3 linked regions of the Homo sapiens genome follow. The protein of the gene in region 3 purifies or fractionates together with the protein of the main gene of each other region. This does not show direct contact. Each region holds a gene or a part of one and is shown on either strand. Other genes may lie near its edges. The genes, in order: FASTKD1, LMBRD2 and ACKR5.

What was found.
Region 1: the proteins of ACKR5 (region 3) and FASTKD1 purify together in Homo sapiens (co-immunoprecipitation; 2 studies listed by BioGRID and IntAct, with this or other methods). This does not show direct contact.
Region 2: the proteins of ACKR5 (region 3) and LMBRD2 purify together in Homo sapiens (co-immunoprecipitation; 2 studies listed by BioGRID and IntAct, with this or other methods). This does not show direct contact.

Annotation. Positions count from the first base shown.
Region 1 is NC_000002.12:169,532,135-169,535,888, forward strand, and holds part of FASTKD1 (FAST kinase domain-containing protein 1, mitochondrial), read right to left. Parts: intron 1-3,754. UniProt on the Homo sapiens protein: Involved in the down-regulation of mitochondrial MT-ND3 mRNA levels which leads to decreased respiratory complex I abundance and activity.
Region 2 is NC_000005.10:36,103,288-36,107,041, forward strand, and holds part of LMBRD2 (G-protein coupled receptor-associated protein LMBRD2), read right to left. Parts: intron 1,911-3,754; coding exon 1,781-1,910; intron 820-1,780; coding exon 759-819; 3' UTR 1-758. UniProt on the Homo sapiens protein: Recruited to ligand-activated beta-2 adrenergic receptor/ADRB2, it negatively regulates the adrenergic receptor signaling pathway. May also regulate other G-protein coupled receptors including type-1 angiotensin II receptor/AGTR1.
Region 3 is NC_000012.12:56,992,233-56,995,986, forward strand, and holds the start of ACKR5 (G-protein coupled receptor 182), read left to right. Parts: upstream 1-2,259; 5' UTR 2,260-2,416; intron 2,417-2,961; 5' UTR 2,962-2,977; coding exon 2,978-3,754. UniProt on the Homo sapiens protein: Orphan receptor.

The sequences.
Region 1 (3,754 bases), on a different chromosome or scaffold from region 3:
CCAGGCCAGGCACAGTGGCTCACACCTGTAATCCCAGCATTTTGGGAGGCCGAGGCAGGCAGATTGCTTGAGCTCAGGAGTTCCAGACCAGCCTGGGCAACATGGCAAAACCCAATCTCTACAAAAAACTTAAAAAATAAGCCAGGTGTAGTGGTAGCTACTCCGGCTGAGGAGGCTGAGGTGGGCGGATCCCTTGAACCTAGGAGGTCAAGGCTGCAGTAAGCCATGCTTGTGCCACTGCACCTCAGCCTAGGCAGCAGAGCCAGACAAAAAAAAAAAAAAGGAAAGAAAGAAAAAGAAAAAGACAACCAGCCTTGTGTGCCTCCTGAGAGGATGCAGAAAGAAGTACAAGCCACTTATGAAGTTTTTGGCCAAAAAGAAAAACCTAAAAAAAAAACCTAAAATCTAATCAAATCTCTAGATATCACTAATGGTTTACAGCAAACCCAGGTTTACAGTAAAAACATTAAAAACTATCAGATGACATTTTAAATGTTATCACAGGGCTGCAATTAGAAAAGTTCGAAATGTGGAAAAAAAAAACTTATTCTCAAATTTTAAGTTAAAAAAAGAAGTAGGAAAGGAAAAGTTGAACCAAAAACTGCAAACCAACCAAGTGGAATGTTAAGATCCCAATTTGGACAAACTATAAAATAAACATAAAAGACACTTAAAACAGGAAAAGCAAAGGTATAGGGGTGCAGTGCATGAGACGTATGAGGAATAGGTTCCACTGCCTTCAATCCTTCACCATTGAGTTCATTATAGTAGGCCAAATCTAACATTTCGATAAAATGTTAAATTTTATCTAAAATTTCCCATATCTCCCTACTTATGTTACATTTCCCATAATTCCCATAAATGTTCAATTTTATCTAAAATTTCCCATATCTCTCTACTTATGTGACATTTCCCATAATTCTACTACCTTCAATCCTTGATCATTGAGTTCATTATAGTATGCCAAATCTAACATTTCAATAAAATGTTAAATTTTATCTAAAATTTCCCATCTGTCTACTTACGTTAAATTTCCCATATTGCTGAACATTTCTTAAAAGATATTAAGAAATTATTATTAATGGTTATAGGATGATAAAGATGATATTGTTGTTATGTTTTTTAAGTCATTCTTATCTTTTAAATATACTTCCTGAAATGATGTCTGTGATTTGAAAAGAATCAGATGGAACTCTGGTGAAAAACTCAGGCACTGAACCATCTTTAAATTAATTATGAAAGATGAAATATATAGAATTCATTAAGAGAATGAATTCTAGAGCCAGAATGCCAAGCTCAAATCCTGGCTCTGTCATTTGCCAGGTATATAACCTTGGGCAATCAATAATGTTTGTGGACTTTAGTCTCCTCATCTGCAAATAATTTACATACTTCATAGGGATATAAGTTTACTATATGCATACACACACACAAGTACTTACGAAGTACTTAAAATGGTGTCTAACACATAATAAGCAATATATAAAAATAAACCTATTATTGTTGTTATATGAAATTGCAGCATTGTTTGACAGATGGACATACCAGCAAAAAAATCTTACAGATTGATTAAATCATAGCATACTCAATGAAATATGCAGTAACTAAAAAAGATGTTGTATAAGCATATCTGTTGGCATAGAAAAATATTCACAACATATAAAGTTATAAACTGCTATGATCTAAATGTGTCCCCCAAAATTCATCTGTTGAAACATAATCATCAATGTGTTAATAATAATAGTGGGACCTTAGGCCAGGCGTGGTAGCTCACACCTGTTATCCTAGCACTTTAGGAGGCAGAGGCAGGAGGACTGCTTGAGCTCAGGAGTTTAAGACCAGCCTGTGCAACATGGTGAAACCCCATCTCTACAAAAAACACAAAAATTAGCCTGGTGTGGTGGTGTGTGCCTGTAGACCCAGCTACTCAGGAGGCTGAGGTGGGAGAATCACTTGAGCTCTGGAGGCAGAGGTTGCAATGAACCGTGATCATGCCACTGCACTCCTGCACTGCACTCCAACCTGGGTGACAGAACAAGACCCTTTCTCAAAAAAAAAAAAAAAAAAAAAAAAAAAAAAGAGGCAGAACCTTTAGGAGACGATTAAGTCATGAGGGCAGAGCCCTCATTAATAAGATTAGTGACCCTATAAAAGAGCATCCTCTGTTGCCTTCCTGTCCCTTCTGCCATGGGAGGACACAGCATTCAAAGTACCATCTTGGAAGCAGAGGCTAGGTCCTTAGTAGATACCAAACCTGTTGGTATCTCGAGCTTGGACTTCCTAGCCTCCAGAACTGTGAAAAATAAATTTCTGTTGTTTTTTTTTTTTCTTTTTTTTTTTTTTTTGATACAGAGTCTCACTGTCGCTCAGGTTGGAGTGCAGTGGCACGATCCCGGCTCACTGCAACCTCCGTCTCCCGGGTTCAAGCGATTCTCCTGCCTCAGCCTCAGGAGTAGCTGGGATTACAGGCGTGCGCCACCACGCCCAGCTAATTTTGTATATTTAGTAGAGATGGGGTTTCACCATGTTAGCCAGGCTGATCTCGAACTCCCAACCTCAGGTAATCCGCCCGCCTCTGTCTCCCAAAGTGCTGGGATTACAGGCGTGTGCCACTGCGCCCGGCCAAATTTCTGTTGTTTATAAATTAACCAGTCTCAGGTATTTTGTTGTAGCAGCAGAAAAGGACTAAAACACAAACACTACAGAAGAAAACCTTTTTGTCTTTTTTTTTTTTAAGTTAGGAAAACAGACACCAAAAGCAAACAGCGGCTATATCATGGGTAATTTTTCTTTTTTGTTATCTTCCTTTTCTAGTTTTTCTATGTTAAGCATGTCTCATGTAATTTTTTTTTAAGAGATGGGGTTATATTCATATTGTTCTGAAGAAAAAAAGAAAAATATTAAAAAGAGATGGCTTCTCACTATATTGCCCAGGCTGGTATCAAACTTCTGGGCTCAAGTGATCCTCCTACCTCTGTCTCTCAAAGTAGCTAGGATTACAGGCTTGCACTACCATGCCCAGCTTCAATGTTTGTTTTTTGTTTTGTTTTGTTTTGTTTTGTTTTAGAGACAGAGTCTTGCTCTGTCACTGAGGCTAGAGTGCAGTAGCGTGACTGTAACTCACTGTAGACTCAACTCCTGGGTTCAAGAGATTCTCCCACCTCAGCCTCCTAATGGGACTACAGGGGCATGCCACCATGCCTGATAATTATTTATTTATTTAGAGACAGGGTCTTACTATATTGCCCAGGCTGGTCTCAAACTCCTGAGCAATGGGACTAGAGGGGCATACCACCATGCCTGCTATTTATTTATTTATTTATTTATTTATTATTTGTTTATTTATTTATTTAGAGACAGGGTCTAACTACATTGCCCAGGCTGGTCTCAAACTCCTGAGCTCAAGCTATCCTTCCACCTCAGCCTCCCAAAGTGCTGAGACTATGTGTATGAGCATGAGCCACTGTGCCCAGCCAATTTATGGATTTTTGTCACTCATACCCAACTCAATCCTGATTAACATAAAATCAAAGGAAAGTTGTGTTTTATAGCACAAGATGAGAGCATTAATGATTATCTAGTTCACCTTCCTGCCCAGTGCAAAAATCACACACATCTATCATCTGAATACTCAGCCTCTGCCTCAACATTACTTCTTCAGAAAGCAGTCAATAATTCTCATTATACCAAGTTAAAGTCTGCTTCCTTTCATTTTTACCATTTTGTTCATCTTTGAGATAGAGATATCTAGTTC
Region 2 (3,754 bases), on a different chromosome or scaffold from region 3:
AATGATAAATGTGAACATAGCTTTCTGAAATGAAAATCTTTTATAAAGCAATACCAGAAGCATAAAAAAATCCAGTTACTACAAAGACTGAAGGAATACTATATCACCTGATTATAGTACACATGCTAAATACACAGACACGCATCACTTGAAGTATAATCTTAATCTTATACATGCAAAAATCCCCCACGAGTTTGCAAACAGATTTGAAAAAGCACTTTTTACATTCAGTTATGTCTAGTAAGTAAGCCTTGTTTTAAGACACGAGTTTTATGAATACAGTTATTATTTGAGGTCTCCATTCACTTACATTTCTTTGGGAAATACAGGTTGAATATACTTTTTAGAAGTAACAAAAATGTAAGTCACAATAACAAAACTGTATATAATATTATTTAGTATGACTTATGGCTTCCTTGAATCTTTAAAATAACTCTCTTGAAAAAAAATTAATCTGAAACAAACTGAACTGCATGTTCTTAACATATGTTGATCTTTCTTAAAGTCCTTCCACTGTAACTGTATTTCTAAGGCAGATGCTTAGGAAATGATATGTAATAAATCTTGTTGAAAAAGGTGATACTCTATTCAATGCACATTAAACTATTATTCCTAAGATATAATTAATTCTCAGTGCCTTTTTTGTTATCTTGACACTTTTCACTGTGTATAGAGGAAATTCTAGGGTACACAGATGTTCATCAAGACTGAACTGATGTGTTGACCTTGGTTAGTGGTCCCACAAACTTTTTCAGACTTTAAACATCATTAAATATGTCACTGCGAGACATCGAGAGATATCGTCCACCAGGCTGATACCTAAAAAGGGAACATAAAGAAATGATCTGAGGCATCAAAAATAATAAAGGAAGAGAGGAAAACAAGAATACATTAAAAGGGAGTGGCCATATAATTTGTAAGTACTGTAAAATCTAGTCAGTAGCTGAAAGCAGAAACTTACCCTCCAAGTATATTATCCAAAAGGACTTAATTATAAATCAACCAGCAACGGTTTTAGACCCTAGAATATATGCATGACAGAGTGAGAGATGTAAAAAGAAGGGGGCAGGGGATGTAAGACACATCTGGGAGATTAATCAATTCAATAACCACTCTCAATTGTTGCAAATAAATATAACCTAGGTTTTTACTGCATATAGGCAATACTATAGTAAACATTTTCGTGCACATGATATTTTGCTTTTATTTAATTATGTGCTTATAGCATAATGGCTAAAAGTACAGACTCTGTAGCCAGAATACTGGACTTTGAATGCCTGACTTGCCATTTACAAGTTGTGTGACTCTGGGCACTTTACTGAGCCTCTCTGGATTTAAATCCAGCTGAATTTGCAACCATACAATTACAATATTTTTGCTAAAGGACTTAGAATAGTGTCTGGCATCTAGACACTGCTATGCAGCAGTTACTAAATATAATAAATTTCACAAATGGGACAATCAGAAATAGGCATATAAATATTGTTGTGATCCTTTGCTATATATTTCAATTATTCTTTCTTATTTATAATACCACTAGTATTGTATGAAGATAACAATTTTAGTTACCATTACTGGATGATATAAAAGCATTAGAAAGTCTAAAAAGGTATCAAAAGTTACTTAATATATTTTTTATTGTTAGTGAAAATGAACATTTTCCTTTACTTATCACTTGTTTACTTTCACCTTTACTTACTTATTTTCAATCTTGTCAAGTCAATGTGTTATTAAAAGTGTAGAGGAATGCTAGAGCTAAAATGTCACAGCCAGAACTTACCTTCCTGATTCAGATTCAAGAGGATCATCAGTGAATGTTTCTGCATTAAAATCCAAAGGTTCTGCATCTTGGAGAAGTTCTATCCGGTCCCTTTCAGTCCTGTTATTAGCCCTGGTATATTTGAATGCAGCTGCAAAGGAAGGGGGAAAAATGTCTACTTCCCTACTGTCTTTTAACTTATGGGTCACAGTCTATGGAGGTACAGAAAGAAAAATCAAAATTCCAAGGAATCTGAAGACAAAGAACATAAGAAAAGATAACTACATGGTTCCTTAAAATCAGATTAAAATTATAAGCAGTATAATAGAATATAGCAAGGAAAAGTTCTCTAGGCTTGTAGTTAGCTAAGAAGCTCTCTAAGCTCAGAAGCAGACACAGTGCAAACATTTCATTAGTGTAACTCAGAATTAACATTTAACTATGGTATCACAATGGTGAAACTGTTTATTAACAAAAGTAGTTTGAGTTGGTTTTACAGTAAACCTCATTTCTTGGCTAGGACTTTAATGTGTAATCAGCTCAAACTCTTAAAAAAAGGTGTGTCTTTTTACCATAAGGCAAGAGTATGGGTAGCACTAGCCAACATCGGCACTAGCCGATATTTAATTAGAAATTTTCTAGTAGCTATATTAAAAAGTAAAAAGAAACAAGTGAAATTAATTTTAATATATTTAAACACAATATATCCAAAATATTACCATTTCAACATGTTGCAAGTGCTCAATAGCCACGTGTGGCTAATGATTATCATACCAGACAGCAGATAAAGAAAACTAACTCTCCCTTCTCTATGTGGATAGGGATTTCTATATAAACAAACCAAATTTTCACAATGTTGTTCAGAGGAGTCCAAGTAGATTTACAACAGCTTTATGCTATAGTTCTTTCTGAAAACTTAATGCAAGCCAATTCTATCATATTTACATTTTTGTAAGCTTGGACTCTGTCCCAAATGCAAATCTCTTCATCTTTTCTCTCACTCATTCAGCAAATCGCAATTGCCCAATACATGCTAGATTCTCTCTAATTCATCATCCTATGACTTTGTGACTCCTCTTCTTTTAAGCACTCTCCCGTCTTGCCAGGTCTTTCTATTCTGTAAACTTCTTCCACTCTATGGTAAGCAAGCATCCAAATCCCTTTACAGAATCCTATTTCCTAGTTTTAACTAAGCCTTTAGCCCTTTCCTATTTATTATACCCTAAAGTCCTTCAAATAAATCCTTTTCTCTTCATCTCCAGGACAACTGCCTTATTTTAGACCATAATCATTTCTTGACTGTATTACCAAACAGTCTCTGAAATGGTTTCTAGTCTCACTTCCCCAAGAATTATGCTTTATACTGCCATCAAATTCATCTTTCTAAACCAAAAATCTTATCATGCTTCTTCCCAGATTGAAATCTTACCTTTAGGTCAAAATCCCAACTTTTTTTTCTTTCGTTTTTTTTTTTTTTTTTTTTGATGGAGTCTTGCTCTGTTGCCCAGGCTGGAGTGCAGTGACATGATCTCGGCTCACTACAACCTCCTCCTCCTGAGTTCAAGTAATTCTCCCATTTCAGCCTCCTGAGTAGCTGGGATTACAGGTGCATACCACCATGCCCAGCTACTTTTTGTATTTTTAGTAGAGATGGCGTTTCACCATGTTGGCCAGGCTGGTCTCGAACTCCTAACCTTAGGTGATCCACCCACCTCAGCTTCACAGGCATAAGCCACCGCGCCTGGCCCCAAATCCAAACATTGGAGAATGACAATATCTGTTCCCCAACTACTCTGTGGCCTCCTCTCTTATTAGCCTCCCCATGCTTAGGCTTTAGTTAGAGAAAAACATGCATTTTCCCAAAGGTTCTCTCATGCCACAACGTCCTGCACTTAGTCTCCCTTCTAATTAAAATACCCTTCACCTGGCTAGGTACTATTCCTTCTTAAATACTCAGCTAAACATGTCCTTATTACAGAAATATTTCTTCATTAT
Region 3 (3,754 bases):
ATTACAGGCATGCACCACCACGCCTGGAATTTTTGCATTTTTAGTAGAGACAAGGTTTTACCATGTTGGCCAGGCTGGTCTCGAATTCCTGACCTCAGGTGATACACCTGTCTCAGCCTCCCAAAGTGCCAAGATTACAAGCATGAGCCACCTAGCCTAGCCCATTATTTTTTTTTTTTTTTTTTTTTTTTAGGAGATGGGATCTAGCTCTCTAGATCCCATCACCCAGGCTTCAGTGCAGCAGGGTGATCATGGCTCACTGCAGCCTTGAATTCCTAGTCTCAAGCGATCCTCCCACCTCGGCCTCCCAAATACAGACTGTACCACCACAACTGGCTATTTTATTTTTTGTAGAGATGGGGGTCTCATCTTGTTGCCCAGGCTGGTCTCAAACTCCTGGGCTCAAGCAGTCTTCCCACTTCGGCCTCCCAAAATGCTGGGATTACTGGTGTGAGCTACTGCACCGGCCATGATAGATTTTGTGATCTTGGAGTGATCTGATATGTAAGTGGAAGGTTTAAGAAAACTACAAAACTACAAAATGAAAAATATTCCCTTCCATGGAGATAAATGGTGCTGATGGTTGCACAGCAGTGTAAATGCACTTAGCGCCACTGAATTGTACACTTAAAAATGGTTAACGTGGTAAACCTTACATATATTTTACCATAATAAAAGAATCAGTGAGCAAACTTTTAAAAAATGTTCTCTTTGAGTGGATAAAGAAAATGTGGTGTGTGTGTGTGTATATATATATATATATATATGGGAATATTACTCAGCCATGAAAGGAAATGAAGTACGGATGCATGCTCCAAAGTGAATGAACCTTGAAAACATGCTAAGTGGAAAAAAAAAAACACAGACACTGAATGTCACATATGATATGGTTCCCTTTCTATTAAGTATCCAGAATAGGTAAATCCACAGGGACAGGAAGCAGAAGGTTGGTGGTGGGGGGAATAGGATTGACTGCTTAATGGTTATGGGGTTTTCTTTGCGGGTAATGAAGATGTTTAGCACGTAGACAGAGGTGGTGTTTGCACAATGTGCATGTCTAAATGCCATTAAATCACACATTTTAAAATGGTTAATTTTATGCTATGGGAATTTCACCTCGACTTAATATATACTCAATCCCGTCCAGCCGACACACCTTTGGCTCAGGCCTAGGCCACTCTGCCATCTGCCAAGTGTGGCTTGTGTAACAGACAACTTCTCTGGGCCTCAAAGAGGGTGAAGAAATCCATCCTCCCCACAGGGGTATCTCCAGAATCCAACGAGATGAAGTGAGGTGAAAGCGCTCTGAAGGGCAGGAAGCTCTGCTGACACAAAATGTTTACCCATAACACGTGGCTTAGAGTCCCTTACCCTCTAGCTTGGCGGGAGAGAGAAGTCTGCTCTCCCTACCCCACGCCCCATCCCCTGCTCATCCCCTGCCAGCCACCCACCACACCCTTCACGCAGAGAAGTATAGAGCCACAGGGGGAGGGCGCCATTCTCTCTCTCCCTCCCTACTCAGGAATCTCCCTGAAGCTTTGACAAAGCCCCCTTGACACCCCGCATTCAATCTTATTTTTATTTTTTTTTATTAACTCTGTCACCTAGGCTGGAGTGCAGTGACCTGATCTCAGCTCACTGCAACCTCCGCCTCCTGGGCTCAAGCGATTCTCCTGCCTCAGCCTCTCAAAATGCTGGAATTACAGGCGTGAGCCACCATGCCCAGCCATTCAATCTTTTCTTTCCCAGATTCTCACCTCCAATCACAAGATGAAGGCAGGGAGCTCACAGCCCTGTGAGGGGCTGGGGAGAATGGCAGGGGTGGGCCAGAGTTATTAAAAGCCCAACTGATGTTCAGATTTATTTTGACCCTCCCCTATACCCCCACATCCAATTTCACTCTAGTAGGAATCAAGACAGGGGAGAGAGGGATTCCAAGCTGACTTAGGGAGAGGAAAATACATACATACGTAAAGCATTTGCCACAGGCCCCACCTGAGCTAAGCACTTTCCCTCCCTCAACAGCTCCTTTAATTCTCAAAGCATCCCTTTTAGTAGATAATAGACCCCACTTTGCAGAGGAGAGCACTGAGGCTGAGGAAAGAGGTAAATTCATTCAGCGGGTGAGGGAGGAGCTGGGATTTTAATGCTGGCAGTATGACCTCCCCGCCACTGGCACACCGGGTCTTTTGCTGGGACATCCCCTGTAACCGGATTGGGGGAATGCAGGAAAAACCCCATCCCTCCCTACAGAGCCTCAGCAGTGACAGCTACTTCCCGGATGAGAAGGGCGGCCGTGAAGCCAGCAGGGAAGCCAGCCCCACAGCCAAGGGCCCCCCAGCCTCCTCACAGCTCCCCATAGCCTGGACCTGCCGGCCCTCCCTCCAGGACCGAGGGGCTCCCAAGGGAAACTCAGGTGAGTGTCGCCCTCTCCCAGGGAAGATGGGAATCAGGGCTTGGAGACAACTGGCTATCCTGCATGATCCACAGGTTTTCCTAGGGATGAATCAGATTGTGTGGTGTGCGTGTGTGTGTGTGTGTTCCACACTCACGGTCCAAATAACAAGACAGAAAAAGAGCAATAAAGATCTGTGCAAAAGGGCTGAGGAATGAAGTGCCAGGAGAGAGGTGGAGGTTGGAGACCACCTAGGAATGGTGGGTGTGGGGGGATTGAGGGGGTTGTTGAGGGGGAACTGGCTGGGGGTGGGGAGAAATGTTGGTGGACACCAACAGTCCTGGCCTCTTCCAGCTGAAACCCCTTAAGAAAGTATCTCTGCTCTTGGGTCAGAGCTAGCAAGTGAGTTGTGTATTATTTATTCACAGTTTGAAAGCTAAACTTCCCTTTCTTGCCTTAGCCCCAGAATCTTTCCCCAAAGCCCCCGACTCCCTCTGGCCTCTACCTTGAGGACACAAGGCTCTCGAGGTCTGCTTTCCCTTCCAACCCTCCCTTCATCCCAATAGGCGTGTGCTGGTCCCAATGTCAGTGAAACCCAGCTGGGGGCCTGGCCCCTCGGAGGGGGTCACCGCAGTGCCTACCAGTGACCTTGGAGAGATCCACAACTGGACCGAGCTGCTTGACCTCTTCAACCACACTTTGTCTGAGTGCCACGTGGAGCTCAGCCAGAGCACCAAGCGCGTGGTCCTCTTTGCCCTCTACCTGGCCATGTTTGTGGTTGGGCTGGTGGAGAACCTCCTGGTGATATGCGTCAACTGGCGCGGCTCAGGCCGGGCAGGGCTGATGAACCTCTACATCCTCAACATGGCCATCGCGGACCTGGGCATTGTCCTGTCTCTGCCCGTGTGGATGCTGGAGGTCACGCTGGACTACACCTGGCTCTGGGGCAGCTTCTCCTGCCGCTTCACTCACTACTTCTACTTTGTCAACATGTATAGCAGCATCTTCTTCCTGGTGTGCCTCAGTGTCGACCGCTATGTCACCCTCACCAGCGCCTCCCCCTCCTGGCAGCGTTACCAGCACCGAGTGCGGCGGGCCATGTGTGCAGGCATCTGGGTCCTCTCGGCCATCATCCCGCTGCCTGAGGTGGTCCACATCCAGCTGGTGGAGGGCCCTGAGCCCATGTGCCTCTTCATGGCACCTTTTGAAACGTACAGCACCTGGGCCCTGGCGGTGGCCCTGTCCACCACCATCCTGGGCTTCCTGCTGCCCTTCCCTCTCATCACAGTCTTCAATGTGCTGACAGCCTGCCGGCTGCGGCAGCCAGGACAACCCAAGAGCCGGCGCCACTGCCTGCTG